Regions from separate parts of the Homo sapiens genome. Here region 2 is linked to region 1. Evidence: fine-mapped expression QTL. Tissue or cell type: fibroblasts. Region 1 holds a variant in brackets; the other region holds the start of a gene. All regions are shown on one strand. Distances are between the middles of the regions.

What was found.
Region 2: MELTF-AS1 starts here. The variant in region 1 is fine-mapped to the expression of MELTF-AS1 in fibroblasts (GTEx, PIP above 0.99).

What each region holds. Positions count from the first base shown.
Region 1 is chr3:197,016,709-197,025,389 of GRCh38, forward strand. MELTF (melanotransferrin) reads right to left here. Exons shown (of 16, transcript NM_005929.6): 4 at 7,595-7,777; 5 at 6,249-6,405; 6 at 4,696-4,763; 7 at 395-582. Among named protein-coding and RNA genes, the nearest start is that of MELTF, 8.8 kb to the right of the region's middle. RefSeq lists an enhancer at 6,026-6,075. The variant C/T (reference allele first, on the strand shown) is at 3,721.
Region 2 is chr3:196,998,100-197,006,780 of GRCh38, forward strand. MELTF-AS1 (MELTF antisense RNA 1) reads left to right here and starts at 4,807. Exons shown (of 4, transcript NR_038285.1): 1 at 4,807-4,874; 2 at 5,503-5,871; 3 at 5,998-6,260; 4 at 6,395-6,645. It overlaps MELTF (melanotransferrin), which reads right to left. Exons shown (of 16, transcript NM_005929.6): 14 at 8,450-8,637; 15 at 5,802-6,000; 16 at 3,641-5,352. The coding sequence ends at 5,273. It also overlaps the pseudogene RPSAP30. RefSeq lists silencers at 4,306-4,385, 4,536-5,325, 5,366-5,765.

The sequences.
Region 1 (8,681 bases):
CAGTCAGAAGTCTATTGCTGTCACAAGCGGCGGTTTTAGCCAAACCTTATTCGCCACATGTAATTAATGGTGTGCTTTGAAAGGCGCTGGTTTTGTTACTTGGTTTATTTGCTCATATGTTTTGGTTTTAGCTCTCAGAGACACAAGTCTCAGGAGCTTCTTCTGAGGGTGCCTGAATCCCTGGGTCCCCCTCCTCTGGGCCCCCCTCTCCTGGCCAGCCCTCCTTCTGGCCAGCCAGCATAGTCGGTTCCTCACTCTGACCTGGCCCGATGCTGGGGTCCGTCCCAAGGACAGTCTCTGGGTCCTGCCCCTCCTGGTCCCACCCTGCTGAGCGACCACAAGGCCCGGCACCATCTAGGAAGCTGTGCAGGTGGTTGGGGGACCCTGAGCCCACCTGGCCTTCGTTGAGCAGCCGGAAGATGAGGCCCCCATCTGTGTCGGCCCGGACCACCACGGCGTGAGCAGGCACCCGGGCCAGATGGCACTGCCTCCACTCGGTGACATCGGCCCGGCTACCATCCCGGCACAGCAGCTCGAAGTCCTGTGACAGCAGGGCCTGGCCCCAGGAGGGAAGCGTCTTCCCTGGGAAGCAGGAAGCCTGGGCTGAGCCAGCTCCGAAAGGGGTTGGGGCGGGTGGCGGGGAAGGCCCAGGAGAGGGAATCTGAGGGGTGGCTGGGTGTCATGGACATGAGAACCCAGCATTCAGAAGGTGGCAGAGCTTGGTGGCCGCACCCAACTCCAGGTACCTACACAGACTCTATCTCGTTACTCTCATTTTCTAGCTCTCACCAATTTCTATTGCTAAAGTGAATTGGAGGTATCTGACAGTAATACAATACTTATAAATAACTATTCAAGATAAAAAAAGTAAGAAAATAAGAAAGGCTGGCCGGGCGTGGTGGCTCACGCCTGTAATCCCAGCACTTTGGGAGGCCGAGGTGGGCGGATCACGAGGTCAGGAGATCAAGACCATCCTGGCTAACACGGTGAAACCCCATCTCTACTAAAAATACAAAAAATTAGCTGGGCGTGGTGGCGGGCGCCTGTAATCCCAGCTACTGGGGAGGCTGAGGCAGGAGAATGGTGTGAACCTGGGAGGCGGAGCTTGCAGTGAGCCGAGATCACGCCACTGCACTCCAGCCTGGGCGACAGAGCGAAACTCTGTCTCAAAAAAAAAGAAAGGCTTTGGGTGAGACAGATGAATGTACCAAGAGTCTAGGATGAGCTTGCGGCTGCCATGAGGCACTGCGTTTGGCTCTGAGCAGGGGGCAGGGGGCAGGGCTCCCGGAGCAGGGGCCACGGTGGAAACAAACCCCGAAGGAATCTACCCACCCCAGGACTAGAGAGGACGGGGGATCTCCCATAACTCCAACTATTCATATTGCGATGGATTTCTTTCAAGTCCTTTTTTCTATTTTATTTCCTGTCTTTTGACCTCACCCCCCCTTTTTCTTTTTGAGACGGAGTCTGGCCCTTTCGCCCAGGCTGGAGTGCAGTGGCACGATCTCGGCTCACTGCAACCTCCACCTTCCGGGTTCACGCCATTCTCCTGCCTCAGCCTCCCGAGTAGCTGGGACCACAGGTGCCCGCCACCACGCCCGGCTAATTTTTTGTATTTTTTTTTATTAGAGATGGGGTTTTACTGTGTTAGCCAGGATGGTCTTGATCTCCTGACCTCGTGATCCACCCACCTCGGCCTCCCAAAGTGCTGGGATTACAGGCGTGAGCCTCCACACCTGGCCTTTTTTCTCTTTTTGAGATGGAGTCTTACTCTGTCGCTCAGGCTGGAGTGCAGTGGCATGATCTTGGCTCACTGCAACCTCCGCCTCCCAGGTTCAAGTTATTCTTCTGCCTCAGCCTCCCGAGTAGCTCAGATTACAGGTGTGCACCAAGATGCCTGGCTAATTTTTGTATTTTTCCTAGAGATGGGGTTTCACCATGTTGGCCAGGCCGGTCTTGAACCCCTGACCTCATGATCTGCCAGCCTCGGCCTCCCAAAGTGCTGGGATTACAGGCGTGAGGCACCGTGCCCAGCCTCCTTTTGACCGCTTTTAACCTGGTTAAGGACATAGTTGACAGGCAATTTTGCATCCTATTTGGTAGAGTATTTTTCCACAGTATTGGAAACTTTCCATAAGTTCATTTGTTTCTCGATAGAAAAGAAAATTTGCAAGAGTAACTATTAACACCAAACAGGGATATTGAGAAGACGAATATTAAGGACTATAATTAAACCACAGATGGTCCCACATAACAATATTTTTATGACCTTAAGACAAGGAGGAAAAAAACCTCTACAAGGAAATAGGAAGAAAAAAGATAATTTGTATGGTCATGAAAGCTTTCACTGCAAAGCTATTTTAAAACAAAACCAAACACCCGCACCAGAGTGATCGTTTAGGAAAACTCCCTAAAGGTCATTGTTAATGGCCACATGGTAGTTTACAGCACTGTTAATGATTCAGTGTAGTCCTACCCCCGCTTCCCAACTTTCCTGTTTTTCGGCGGCTGCAAAACCTTTGGTTAGAGCTCTGGGGCATCATTTGCCTTCCCACAGACAAAGGCATCATTTAGGTGCTTCCATCAGCCACTCCCGCTTCTCCTCAGCCAAGAACAATGAAAGTCCTGTCACTTCCCTGCTTTAGACATTTATGCCACTTCTACCCCTTGGCTCTTACCAATCTTTCTGTATAAAGTCACTTAAAAAATGACTCCCTTAGATTGCCTCAGATTACCATCAACACTTTGAAAAAGCTGCCAGGTGCACGCCTGTCATCCCAGCTACTCAGGAGGCTGAGATGCGAGGATCAGTTGAGGCTGGGGGTTTGAGACCAGCCTGGGCAACATGGTGAGACCCCCATCTCAAAAAAAACCCCAAGTTTGAAAGAGCTGATTCTTAACCCAACATATCCCTACTCTTTGCCCGTTTTCCAAATTCTCCTTTGTCAGACTCGTCCTGGGGCCTGTGAACGGGAGCCCATTTCCAGGCTTGCCCAGCACTAGAGCGCATCGTCCTACGTGCTTCCTCGTGTGCAGGGCACTCGCCTTCTTCCTCCTCAGATCTGGTCCATGTTTGCCTTCGTGATGGACTTTCTGATTTAAAAGGCAATGGTTAATAACAGCAAAGAATGACAATGATTTAAAAAAAAAACCCAATCATCAGACGTCCTGGGAGACGCAAAACTGCAGACAGAACGGTGTGTTTGCTGCTTGCTGGCAGGTGCGGGGAGATAACTAGCAGGGGCCTGAGGAACTCCTGGGCTGAAGGGTCTGCCCCATCAAGATCTCGATTGTGGTGGTGGTTATACAACTGCATGTATTTGGCAAAACTCATAGAACTATCCTTCAAAAAGAACAAATTTTGCTGCATGTAAATTATATCTCAATTTAAAAAAAGAAACAATCTTCAGGCAAATCTAAATTGAGGGACATTCTATAAAATAACCGGCCTGATGCTTCAAAATGCCAATGTCATAAAAACAAAGACTGAGAAACTGTTCCAAGATAAAGGAAAGTAAAGAGATCTAACAACTAAACCCCATGCGTGGTAAGAGTTTAGGTCCTGGTCTGCAAGAAATGGGCATGAAGGACAGAATTGGGACGGTGAGTGAATCTGCAATATCGGCTATAGACTGGATAACAGGATTGTATCAAAGTTGCGTGTCCTGATTTGGATTACTGTGGCTAGGTACACACCTCCTTGTCTTAGGAGATACATAC[C/T]AAAGTATTCAAGGGGTATGACATAGGCAAATGTACTCTCAAATGGGTCAGAACACACACGCACACACACACACACACACAATAAAATGTGGGAAAATGCTAAACAGTTAGAATTTGGGTGAAGAATAGAAGGGAGCTCTTTGAGTTATTCTTGTAAGTTTTCCAAAGCTCAGTTCTTTCAAAATTAAAAAACTTAAATGACATGATGGCTCAATATATAACACCAGTCTTTGTGGGTTTTTTTTTTGTTGTTGTTTTTTAGACAGAGTCTCGCTCTGTCACCAGGCTGGAGTGCAGTGGTGTGATCTCGGCTCACTGCAATCTCTGCCTCCTGGGTTCAAGCAATTCCCCTGCCTCAGCCTCCCAAGTAGCTGGGATTTGAGGCACCCACCACCACGCTCGGCTAGTTTTTTGTATTTTAGCAGAGATAGGATTTCACCATGTTGGCCAGGATGGTCTCTTCTCCTGACCTCGTGATCCGCCCACCTCGGCCTCCCAAAGTGCTGGGATTACAGGCATGAGCCACCGTGCCCAGCCTCAACACCAAACTATATCTTAAACCTTCCCAGGGATGAGGGACAAATTCTCCAGGCAAGAGGAGAAAAATGCCAGGAAGGGCTGGTAGGTGAGATCCAGTGCAGGGGTTTGCAAATTGCTTAAAAAATCAGACCCTCATCTTCAGGTGGAACCAGAACCCAATGCCATATTCAAATCAAAGCAGAGCAGAGCTGCTCGCTGGCCCCCTTCTCCTGCCCTGTGGGCAGTGGGCACTCCACTGGTGACACCTGCCTCTGCTCTTTTGCAGCTGGGAGTGCTGAGGCTCGGAGACTGTGGGACTTGTCCAAGGTCACCCAGAGACTCAGAGCAGCACTGCACTAGGGCGTTTGATCCCAACTCTGCCATCTAGGGTCCCTGCCCCAAGCCGGCCTGGCCTGACTCCCTGCTCCTCTGGGCCCGTGCCCCTCCCCCACTCACCATCCGTGTTCTCCAGTACCGTGCTGTGCTTCACAAAAGCCACGTCCCCTGCCCCTTCCGCCAGGCACCTGCGGAGGAGAAGCTGTGGGTCTGGATGGGCTGAGCCCCTGCCCCTGCCCATCTTCCACCTCTGGAGGCCTGGCTTGGGCTGTAGGGGTGGCCATGATGGGCATGGGCTTTCCAGTTGTGTGGTCTGGGTTCCAGCTCCCTGGCTGGTCGGCTGTGTGCCTTTGCCGAGTTGTGGCCCCTTCCTAGCCCCTATCATCTGTAAAGCGGGGGTGGGAAAGTAGCTCCCACAGGGCTGCTCTGAGGATGAGAGGCTCCTTATAATCCAGTATGGACCCTCTCCATCTTAGCTCAGGCCTGTAGGGAGCAGGCACTCCCAGGGCAGCTGCTATTATAATATCAGCAGCCTTGACTCTCAGGGCGTCGGTTTTCTGTGTGTTTGTTTTCGTTGTTTTGTTTTTAGAGATAGGGTCTCACTGTGTCGCCCAGGCTGGAGTGCAGTGGCGCAATCATAGCTCATGGCAGCTTTGACCTCTTGGGCTCAAGTGATCATCCTGCCTCTGCCTCCAAAGTAGCTGGGGTGACAGGTGTGTGCCACCATGCTGGGCTAATTTTCAGGGTGTTTTGAAGAGCATTCTACCCTGAGGCAGGGGATTGGACTAGAAGGCCTTTTCATGCCATGCCGCAGAATCCTCAGTGGAAGGGACCATTGACTTTTACACGATCTGCTGATGTCACTGCCCAGTGTTGGAGGCAGGTCAGACCTCCTGGGCAAAGGGTCTGCTTGGGTCCCCACGGGCAGAAAATGCACAGGGATTAGAGCAGATCGGGGCGGGCGACATCAGGAGAGGGCTCTGAGGCTCCAAGAGAGCCAGAGAGAATGTGTGCATGGCCAAGGACACGGGGAGTGGAGGGGCAAGGCTGTCCCGCTCAGGGGTGCTGAGGACTGTTTCTTCTCTCTAAGCCGAAAACCGCATCCAGTCAGATAACATCTGGAGTGTGGGGCACCAGCAGGCTTCCCTGCTCCAGGTGGAAACGTGAGGTAGCTAGAGGGGCCCGAGAAGCTTCCTTTCCAATCCTGCTGAGCACATTTCCTCCTCTGCAGGCAGATGGAATTGGACCACGAGCTGTTAGAGTCTCCTGCATCCACGGAAGGGTTACCCAAGGTGCCAGCCGCAACCAGCAGCAGAGACGGGCCGGCCCCAGGTGTCCAGACACACTCCCCTGACCCCGCTCCCTGCTGGTCTGAGAATGGGGACATGGGAGTGGCCAAAAGGCTGTTTTTTCCATTTTCTTCTCTTGGAGCCCTCACCTCACTAAATATACCAAACACGTTGATTTCATGAGCAAATCCGGTTTGGCATATTCCAGCTGGATGTTTTTAAACTAACCAGGGCACAGAACTATATAAAGGGTGCTTTGATGAGACGCAGCCAACATGCCACTTCCCCCTCCACGGCCCTCTCTGGGCAAAGGTGTTTTTCCCCAGCATTTGTGGCCTCAGCTCCTCCCTGCCCTCGGCCCCTCCCTGCCCCCACTCCGCTCACCGGAAGGCCCCGCTGTAGTCGTAGTATCTCTCCAGGGGGCTCTTGTCACACACCCCTTCCCCAGAGCTGTCACCCCTGCAGAGGCGACAGAGGGACTCAGAGTAACTGGTCTCTCCTGCCCCCGGGACGCAGCTGCCCCCAAAATAGTCGCTGACAGCTGTGGGAAGGAGGTAGAGAGGTCACTCAGCAGAACTTTCTTCAGAGCCAAGCCAAGCCCCCAGGGTCAGCAGGGGGCCCGGGCTCTCATCTGGACTCTGCTGAGAATGGTTCCACCTTCCAGCTTCAGTCTGAGCAAAGCTGGGGAGTGGACCCGATCAGTGACCCCCAAACCGGGTCCACCAAGGCAGCAGACAGCACTGGGAGCGACTGTCATTTAAAAATGGTTCGGGGGAACTAAACATTTCCTCCTAAATGACCACGTGGGATAACTCAGTATCAGCCAGATGCTCTTCTCACTGTGGGTTTCATTTCCAGCTCAGCCAACTGTGACTGATGACAGAGGGGAAATAAAGAATTATTGAAGATCACTGATGGGTAGACAACCCTTCTCACGGCACAGGGAGGGAGGCACACGCCCGGCGGCCAGCCTCACGGGGGACGAGGTCAGGGTCTGCCGCCCTGCATGGTTCTTCCGGCCCTGCCAGCACCAAAACCCACAAGTATTTATCCTGTGCCGCGCGAGGAGGCCCTGCTGCTGGCACCTGAGCCAGTCGGGCCACGCTCATCGCCAGCCAGACTGAGCTTTTCCAGAGTAAGCCCTCTTCCTGGTTTTTTTTTTGTGACCTCCCAGAGGAGTAGATATTTAATAAATATGCCAAGTGCCTGGTGAGCCACTCACACCTGGCCACCAGCTGAGAGGGTGAGGCTTCCAGGCTCTCGCGGGTTTACACGGCTGGTTGGGCTGATGAGCCACTTGGGAGCTTTCTGGGTGCAAGTCGGCACCTCGTTTGGGTCCTGAAAAAATAGCATTTCTGGTCCTGTAAAGCCGAGGACACATTTCTAGACACAGTGACCTGCGCCCGGTCTATACTGGTGGGAAGCACTCCTGGGAGATTCACTGCTTCCCACTCATGGGCTGGGCCTGTGCCTGGCTGTGCCATGTGGGACACCACGATGCGTGAGCAAGAATCGCGCCCCACAGGGTCCAAGCAAGCAGGAAGTCAAGCGGCGGCGCCGGCGGCAGAGTGGAGGCGGGGGAGGCACGGGGCGGGCGGGGGCTGCTGCGCCTTCCAGGAATGAAGAATGGTGGCGAGGCCGGAGGGAGGCTACCCAGTGAAGGGACGAGCATGGGCCAAGGAAAGGAGGGGGAGGCCTGGGGACCCTCCTGCCCAGCCCAAAGCCCTCACCTTTGAGTACATCGCAGCCCATCACCGAGAGGCGGCCGCTCTCCACCAGGTAGCCCACGGGCACGTTCCAGCCCACTGTGCGATTGATGCCCGTGTGGCAGGACTTCACGCCTTTCAGGGTGTCAATGGTCACATGGGAGCTCCTCCTGACCACAGCCACGGCGTAATAGGAGGTACCGACCTCTAGGAGGGGAGGGGAGTGGGTGAGGGCAGCAGGGAGAGGCCTCGAGAGAGGCTGCACCAGCACCCTGCCTGGGCGGGCTGTGGGAGAGGTGTGTGCACGGAGCACGGCTGTACACACGGATGTGTGCATAGCGTTCTCGTTACCAAGAGAGCAAGTGGGCTTCATCTGCATGTATTAAGAGGCCCTGCCCTCTAGCCTCTTGAGGTAGAGACGATCCTGAGATATTGATGTATTCATTGATTTCCCCCTCTTCCTTCCCCAGCAGCTGGTGCTTAGCTGGGTCCACATTTGCTCACATCAGGGGAGTTATTTAGCTGGACAGAAAGCAGAAGCCAGCAAGTCCTTGCTTTCCAAGAGCCTAGGCCCCTAGGAGAACTTGGAGGGTTTGGGGGAATGGTGTCAGGGTCATGGGAAGAAGGGTGTCTGGGAGGAGCAGGGGAGCCGAGGAGGGGCTTCCCCAGATGAGGAGCGGCGATTTCCTGGTGCTGAGGGGGTTGAAGGAGAGTGAGACAGAGGCAGAGACAGAGAGAACTAGCGATGTGGCCCCAAGTCGCTCACGACCCTGAATGCTGCAGGGTGTGTGTGGTGGGGCCAGGGCTCTGCAGCCTTGCAAAGCGTTCCCCTGTGCCAAGGTGGCTCCAAGGGGCTGCTCAGGCAAAACACAGACTCAGCTGTGGGAACTGATGCCCAGAGGGTCTCCCATCGCACGGGCGCACACACGCAGGCATGCACGCGTGCACAAACTGCCCGGTGGTGTGGGAGGCCATATCAGAATGAAGTTGAGTTCTAGAACATAAAGCCAGTGTTACTTCTTGCACACCAGGGTCTGGCCCCCGCCAACCTGAGTAGCTCCGTCTGGTACCATCCTCTGACTCACCCGCCTTGTTTCTTACCAATCCTCTG
Region 2 (8,681 bases), 19 kb before region 1:
AGTCTCACTATGTTGCCCAGGCTGGCCTCAACTCCTGGGCTCAAGCAATCCTCCTGCCTCAACCTCCAAGTAGCTGGGACTACAGGCATACACCATTGCACCCAGCTTCGCAGTCTATGTTTTAATAAACCCTCAGGTGATCCTCACATACGCTCAAGGCGAGAAGCTTTGACGTATATGACTCTCCGCTGTGAAACCCAGCTTCTGGCTTGTTAGCACCAACGCAGAGGCAGCTGAGAAAGGCAGAAACAAAAAGAGCCCACCCGGCCCCTCTCACTTCAGCACAGGCAACAACCCCGTGAAGACTCAGATGTGTTTTAGTCTAAGAATTACTGTTAGAGCTAGAAATCGTCGAGGCCCCATACCCGCTTCTCAGTTTATAGATTTGGGAACTGAGATGGGGAGAGGAGAAAGTATTGGCCCAGGGTGAATACCAAAGTGGAATGAGAATTCAAGTTTCCTGAATCTTAGGTGAGTGAGCTGGTTTTTATTCCACAAAATTGGAATATCTTTTTTTTTGAGGCAGGGTCTGGTCTGGAGTGCAGTGGCACCATCACGGCTCACCGGAACCTCCACCTCCCAGGCACAAGTGATCCTCCCACCTCAGCCTCCCAAGTAGCTGGAGGTACAGGTGTGGGCCACCACACTGGGCTAATTTTTTTAAAAATTGTTTGTAGAGATGGGGTCTCACTATGTTGCCCAGACTGGTCTTAAATTCCTGGGCTCAAGCGATTCTTCCACCTCAGCCTCCCAAAGGGCTGGGTTGACAGCGGTGAGCCACCACACCCAGCCTAATTAATATATCTTTTTAAAAAATTGTAGCATTTATACCTATTGTAAATGTTGTGTGAATCTTTTTCAAGAATGTTGTCCTGAGGAACACATCCTCATTGTAAACAGTCAAGAACACCTGGGGAGGAGTCTGAAGCTGGGGGTGACGGCTTGTGCCGTGTGGGCCACAAGGCCCTGTCTATCCTGTCACTGTCCCTCCTGCACAGCAGTGTTCTTCTACCACACCACCTCGGTGGCCTCTCCAAATGAGACCAAGGGGGGCAGGGCTAGTAGGCCGTGTACTTACTTCTTTGTACCTTCCAGAGCGCTGAGCACAGGGCTGTGCACACAGCAGGCTGGCCGACCCCAAGCACTTGTGGGGCCTAGGACAAGAGTACCAACAGAGGCCCGCCTACCATGTGGCTCCACATTAAATGTTACAAATCAAGCTAACAAGCTATTAAAGAGAATGTGTCCTGTCCTCCTACTTTGACAAACAAACCTTTATAAAGACTCAGCAGCCTAGAATAGGAGCTGCGGACAGAACAGGCTTCCCCGCCATAGCCCACCCGCTCTCTTCCCATCCAGGCTGCAACCCACGCTTCGAGGGCCTTGCGCATTGCAGAGGACACGGCAGCCTGCTCATCACGCTCAACTACACCTCCTGCGAGAGCTTTGGCCACCTTGGGAGGCAGGATCTAGGTAAGGGGCCCTCCAGACCCTGGAAGCTGGCTCAGGGCTGTTTGAGGTATAAAGTCCAGGATCCCAGGTATCTGGAACATGGTGTGAAAAATGGGCTCTGGGGCCAGGTGCGGTGGCTCATGCCTGTAATCCCTTTGGGAGGCCTTTGGGAGGCCGAGGTGGGCGGATCACGAGGTCAGGAGTTCGAGACCATCCTGGCCAACATGGTGAAACCCCATCTCTATGAAAAATACAAAGAGTAGCCATGTGTGGTGGTGGGCGCTTGTATTTCCAGCTACTTGAGAGGCTGAGGCAGGAGAATCACTTGAACCCGGAAGGCGGAGGTTGCAGTGAGCTAAGATTGTGCCACTGAACTCCAGCTTGGGCAACAGAGCAAGACTCCGTTTCAAAAAAAGAAAAGATGACCCCTGAGTGAACGCATCCCTTTTCCCTGTGATTGCTCCCTCTGTGGGTGGGGTGTGGGGTGTGGTCTGGGGGAGGCCTCTGAAGGCTTGCTTCTCAAAGTGTGGTCCCTGGACCACCAGCACAGGCACCACCTGGGAGCTGGTCTGAACTGCAGACTCTCAGTCTCATGCTGGCCCTTCTGAACCAGAGTCTACATTTTAACAAGATCCCCAGGCAGTTAATGTGCACATCAAGGTCTGAAAAGCACTGCTTGAAAGCACAAAACCGAGGACTAGAATCCCTCTTGCCTAGGTCTAGGGGTGGTACTGACAAGTAGGTATCAGTAAGTATTTGCTCAACAAATGGCCAATAGCCCTACAACAGGCCTGGTAGCCATGGGGGTGCTGGGGCATGGCTGCCTGACTCACAAGGATTTCATTTCCTTTTTCTGGGGCCTCGGTGGCCATGTGTCCGCTATACACCCTGCTTCTGGCCTGTGCTGACTGGTCCAGTGGTAGATGCCTGACGCACACTGGGCCAATCAGATGATCTCTCCCAGGAATTCCAAATTGAAGACAAGAAAACAGGCTCTGGAGTAATAGCAGTAGTGACAGTGAACATCCTTCCTGCACCCACCGTGTGCCAAGCACTGTGCTGAGTGTTTTGTGTCTTAGACTCTATGCCATGTGCCAAGCACTGTGCTGAGTGTTTTGTGTCTTAGACTCTATGCCGTGTGCCAAGCACTGTGCTGAGTGTTTTGTGTCTTAGACTCTATGCCGTGTGCCAAGCACTGTGCTGAGTGTTTTGTGTCTTAGACTCTATGCCGTGTGCCAAGCACTGTGCTGAGTGTTTTGTGTCTTAGACTCTATGCCGTGTGCCAAGCACTGTGCAGTGTTTTGTGTCTTAGTCTCTATGCCGTGTGCCAAGCACTGTGCTGAGTGTTTTGCATCTTAGACTGGATCTTCACAACCACCTCACCAAGCTGGTGATCGTACTGTGTGTTTTTCAGATGAGGGGCTAGGGTGCCCAAAGGTTAACTTTCCTTTCCAGAAGTTCAGGGTAGGGAAGTGGTAGCATGAGGCGAGCTGGAGTGACTGTGCAGCTGAGACTCGTCCATGTGATGCAGAGACAAAGTCGGTCAACTCTGGCCATCCAGGTCCCCAGGAATTGACTGGCTTTGTGATAACTGAGCCGACTTCATGGAAAATGGCCTGTGTGCAGTGGTGGGCAAGACCTGGCTCTGGGAGATGGCCACAGCGGCGAGGGGTGGTGGTGTGGGGGCCAAGTGAAGCCATGAGAGAGGGAAGCAGAGAAAACCTCCCCTTCCAGAGGGAGAGCAGAGCACTGATGAAGACCAGCCGGGCCCACCCCCACCTCAGTAGATACCACAGAGCACCCACTGTAGGGTCTCTGGGAGATCCGCTCCCCACGCCCCCCTCCAGTGAGTTAGCAGCGAGCTTGCCAGAGAAAAGATGTGGGCCGCTTATTTTGGAGGTGTGGGGCAGGGGGCAGCAGAGAAGTTTGCACCCTTCTCTGCACCCATCCACAGAAGGGCAGACACCCCAGAGCCTGATGGGGTGGAGGCAGCTGGAATGTGCCAGGGCAGCGGAGGCCCTGCAAGAGCCAGAGAACCAGTCCAGGTCGAAGAAGGGCGCGGGGGGCCTCACTGACTAGAGGATGAGAGTGGTCCCTGACTGGCTCTTGGAGAATGGAATCTGCCCTTCTCGGTGGAGCAGGTAGGCCTTTGAGTGCCTAACAAAACGAAAGAAATCGGCAGCAGAAGTTTCTATCAGGGTCCAAGCCTCTGCATGTGCTGGCTTGTTTGGCTTTATTTTAGAAACCAACCAACATGTTTCATTAGCACTGACACAGCAGGGGTCCCCTGCTGCCACCTGACAATCCAGCGTCACTTACACTGCACCCACGCAGGCCACACCTTCAATGGCCACGGCACGCTAGCCCAGAGTTAGCCACACAGAAACACACTTCTCACCGCACAAAACTCCCTTTTGAAAAAACCAAGCAATCGTCAGGTCGGAGGAGAATCACTAGCCCCCCACAGCGAGAGGGGACAAAGCTTGGTGGCCGAGGCCCAGGTCCTTGTGGCCCCTCCCGGTGGGGTGAAGGTGCCCGGGACTCCTCGGGGTTGCATGGCTACAGCCGGGGCGCTGCCAGGGCCTCCTCTGCGGCTGAGAGATGGAAGGGATCCTTCCCGACGCCCGCAGGTGGGGGCGAGCCACCGGGAACCGGGCCTGTCACCAGCATCCCCGAGCCCCCGCAGACCGGAATGCAAATGGCTCCGCGCCCACGCGGCTCCCGGTCTGCTGACGAGGGCTGCCTGCTCCCATTTCTTCTCTTCCTCTTCATTTTTTTTAAGGGCTGCCAGTTCTGGAAACTTTTTCTGGCTTCTCAGACAACTGTGGCAAGATGGAGTAGAGAGAGGCCCCGGCCGGGCGCTTTCTGCTGCCTCGCGGAGGGGCGGGCACGGGGAGTGAGGGGTCCCCAGGCCCAGCGGGTGCGGGGCCGGGTGAGGAGACGGAGCTCACCCCCGTTCGGAACCCAGAAGCATGGCGGGTCCCCACGCGCAGCCCTTCAGGGGCCTCGGGAGCCCGCGGCCTGGGTCACCTCCGGCTCCCTTCAGGCGGGGGGCGGCTGCTGCCGCCAGGCTCGGGCGTGGGTGCGGGCGGTGGGCATCCCACGGGGGTAGGGGAGGCGAGAGCCTGAGGAGACTCGGGAGGGGGCCCGTGGACGCGGCTGGCCCGGGATGGAGCTGGCGCGGCCACAGTGGGGGACGAGGCAGGGCACGCGGCGTTCCCCGGGCTCGGCCTCCCTCCCAGCGCACGGGCGGTCGGAGGAACTGGAGCCCCCACCCCGGACACGGTCCCGCGGGCGAAGGCTTCTCCCCGTCGCCCCGGTCCGGCCTCCCTCCCGCCGCCGCCAGCAGAGGCCGCTGTCCCACGCGCCGGGTCCCGTTGGCGCCGGGGCCTCCTGGGACGGCCTGGCCGCGGCCTGCGGGTGTAGGCGCCTCGGCGGCCACCGCGTCCCCAGGGGGCCTCGCGGACGGGGGCGCGGGGCTGCGGGGAGGAGGCGGGCGGGCCCCTCGGGCGACACCGCGGGGCGGGCGGCGGGAAGCCCGGACTCAGCGGTTTCCTGGGCAACCGGCCTCCTCCGGCGCGGCCCGCGCGGCTCCAGGTGGCGGGAGGCGGCGGTTGGCGGGAAGGGCCGCGCGGGCCCGGGGGCGGCGCCTCAGGTAGCAGCGCCAGGTGGCGCCCGTGGGCGGCGGGGCTCCCGGGGAGGCGCCTGCTCCCGCCCACGCCGGGCCCGGCCTTCGCGAGCTTCCTTCTGGATTCCAGCGCGAAGCCGCCGCGGAAACTCCCCGGGCGGGCATCGGAGCTCTGGGGCGGGGCGGCCGGGCTCAGAGGGCGGGCGGGAGCAGGCGGGCGGCGAGGGCGGGCAGCAGCAGCGGGAGCAGGGGCGCCCCGGGCGCCGGGGCCGCTGGGGACGAACGCGGCGGGTCAGGCCCCGAAGCCCGGGCCGCGGTGGCCGCCTCAGGCGCCCGCTCTGGGGTGGGGGTGGGGGCATCTTTCGGGACCGAACTCGCCGCAGCCTCCCTCTTTGTGCTCCTTTCCCCTGCTGCCCTTCCAGATGCGCTCTTTCCAGAAAGGCAGCACACGCATGTCTCTGCCGTGGCCCCAGATCCTCCCCGCGCCGCCGTTTTGAGCGTTCACACTCATTACCCAGGTCCGTCTGGGAGACCCGCCGGGCTCCCGCCCTCCCGGCCCGCAGCCTCCTGGCCAAAATCCTCCCGGGACACCCCACCTGGACTGCTGCGAACGGGCCTCCACCCGCCTCCCCGGACCCGCAGCGCCCCCCGCTCCCTCAGGGTTCTGGGGTGAAGGGGTCTGAATAGCACCAGGGGAGGCGGCAGGGCGGGCCTGTCCTACCTGCGCCCGAGCACTGCTGAGACGACATCCCTTCCAGCGCCGCCACGTAGTCCAGCCCCAGCCAGCCGCGGTAGGTGGTTTTCTCTCCGACAGGCACCGCCCGGACGGTGGCATCCTTGAAAAGCAGGTCTTGGCCATGATAGTTGGAGGAGTCGAACATTTTGAACCCGTTCTTATTGTGGTCGTCTCCAAACAGGTCCTGGAAGCACCGCAGGCAGACGACCTGCTCCTCACTGGGCTCAGGCAGGGTCACCCGCCCAGTGCCGCTAGCTGCAAATTGCTTTACATACAGTGACCCAAAGAGCAAGTCATTTCAGGGCCCCACCACTCTGATTGGAAGTCATAAGCTTGACAACTGATTGGCCTCTGTCACCCAAGCGGGTGTGGGGACACTAGGCCCGCAGGTGCCACTGGAAGAGGCGTTCAGAAGCACTGCGGTGCTCCAGCTCCTGGATGCAGGTCTGAGGCCTGAGATGTCCAGGAAGAAAGACCCAGAAATGAGGGATGGTGTGGGTGGGATTCCTGAGCGTTCTGCTAGGCCTGCTGAGCACTTCTTGGCCTTTTCCATAAGGCTTTCTCACTCTGTCTTACAGATATCTCCCCACAAACCTAAACAATTTCGAGAGGGACTTGTGTTCTGCAACCAGTCACAGAATATCAGGTGAGCTGGGCGTGTCTTCACTGACCCACCCGCCCAGGGATGCTGCACTCCTCTCCACCCTGCTCAGAATCACTAGAATGACCGTTCTGTGGCTACAGCCCTAAAAGAGCTACTAAAAAGACCAGAAGTAGTATGAGAACTTATGAATACGAATATAAATAAAGGACATCTGGAGAACATGCATGAATGTCTATGTAAAGTGTTAAGTACTGATCAAGGAGGAACGAAGGAGTCAGGTGGCTCTCAGTCTTTTTGGAGGGACTCGCAGATCCTCCTGAAGATCTGATGAAAGCTGTCAGCCTTCTCCCCAGAAAAATGCACATCCACCCAGGATTCTTCTCCCACATTACTTCAGAGGACTTAGCAACCCCCTAGGGAAGCCCAGGGACCCAGAGTAAAGCACTCCTGGGATAGAGGGGTTCTGTGGGGAAGATGACAGGAAGGAACATGCGTCAGTTCACAATGTCAAAGTTTAGGAACAGGCCTGGCGAGCCAGCCAGCTCTGCAGTTCTGTGGTGCTGGTGGGTGTGGAGAAGGCAATTTCAGCATAAGTCGGGGGAGGGGGAGTGGTTAGAAACCAGTGGCTCCATTGTGAGACAACCTGGGTTTAAATTCTAGGTATATTTTGAAAGCACAACCAATGGGATCTGCTGATAGATTGGCTGTAGAGCACGAGAGGAAGACCGGAGTCAAAAATGACTCCCGAGGAAATGGAAAAGCTAAAGTTGCTCTTAATTGAAGTGGGGAAGACTGAAGGAGGGACGGGGGTCCAACTTTGGACTTGATCCATTTGAGATGACTGTTAGAAACACAAGTCAAAATGTCAAGTATGTAGTTAAATATGCAAGTTTGGGACTGATGTCTGAAGATGTAAATTTAGAAGCCATCTGTATATAGATGGTATTTGATGACATGGGATTGGATGAGATCAAGGGTAAGCTGTAGACAGGGAAGAGGGCTGAGAACTGAATCCTAGGGCTAACAGGTCAGGGAGATGGGGAGGAAATCAGCAGAGAAGACTGAGGAGTGGCCAGAGAGTGAGAGGACAGCCAGGCAGGGCTGAGGACCTGGGCATCTGCAGGGGAAGGTGTTTCCAGGAGGAGGGAGAGCTGTGGCCAGTGCCACTGAGAGGTCAAGTAAAATGAAGACTGAGAAATGGCCACTGGGTTTAGCAACATGGGTCACTGTGACCTTGACAAGAACAGCTTCAGGGCCCTGGTGGGAGCCTGTCTGGGGTAGTCTCCATCCTTAAGAGGGGCCAGAGGAGAGGACTTGCTAACTCAGTCTCCATCCTTAAGAGAGGCCAGAGGAGAGGACTTGTTAACTCCAGAGCAGACCACTCTTTGGAGGAGTTTTGCTTCGAAAGGGAGCAGGATTGGCCGGGCACAGTGGCTCATGCCTGTAATCCCAGCACTTTGGGAGGCCGAGGTGGGCGGATCACGAGGTCAGGAGATCGAGACCATCCTGGCTAACACGGTGAAACCCCTTCTCTACTAAAAAATAGAAAAAATTAGCCAGGCATGGTGGCGGGTGCCTGTAGTCCCAGCTACTCAGGAGGCTGAGGTGGGAGAATGGCGTGAACCCGGGAGGCGGAGCTTGCAGTGAGCCGAGATAGTGCCACTGCACTCCAGCCTGGGGCGACAGAGTAAGACTCCGTCTCAAAAAAAAAAGAAAAAAAGGGAGCAGGATTACAGCTGCAAGAGGATGGATGTGAGACCAAGAGGTTAGTTTGTTCTTTAAGGATGGCAGAAGTCACAGCATGTTTCATGTTGGTGAAAATGGTCCGACTGAGAAGGGAAAATCAACGATGCAGGAGGCAGAGGGGACAGTTTCTGGAGGGATGTCCTTGCGTAAGTGAAAATCACAGAATTTCCCCCGGGCTTCCTCAATTTCTCTAGAGGTCTGCTCCAGGTAGACTGAGGCCTCCCAGGGGCTCAGCTTACCTCTGCTGCACACCCCTCAATGAGGTAGCCCCACCCTGGCTCACCTGGGCCTTGTCCAGCAGTCCATACACGGTGAAGATGTTGGTGTCGGGCCGGACCATCACGGCGTGGGGTGGTATCTGTGCCAGGTTGCAGGCTGCAAACTGGGACACCTCGGCTCGGGCCCCGTTGGGGCACAGCAGTTCATAGTCCTCTGACCTGAGCTCAGCAGCCCAGGGCTCGGAATTGTGGCCTGAGGGGGGTAAAGCAGTGTGTGTGGGGACGTTCCGGGAGTGG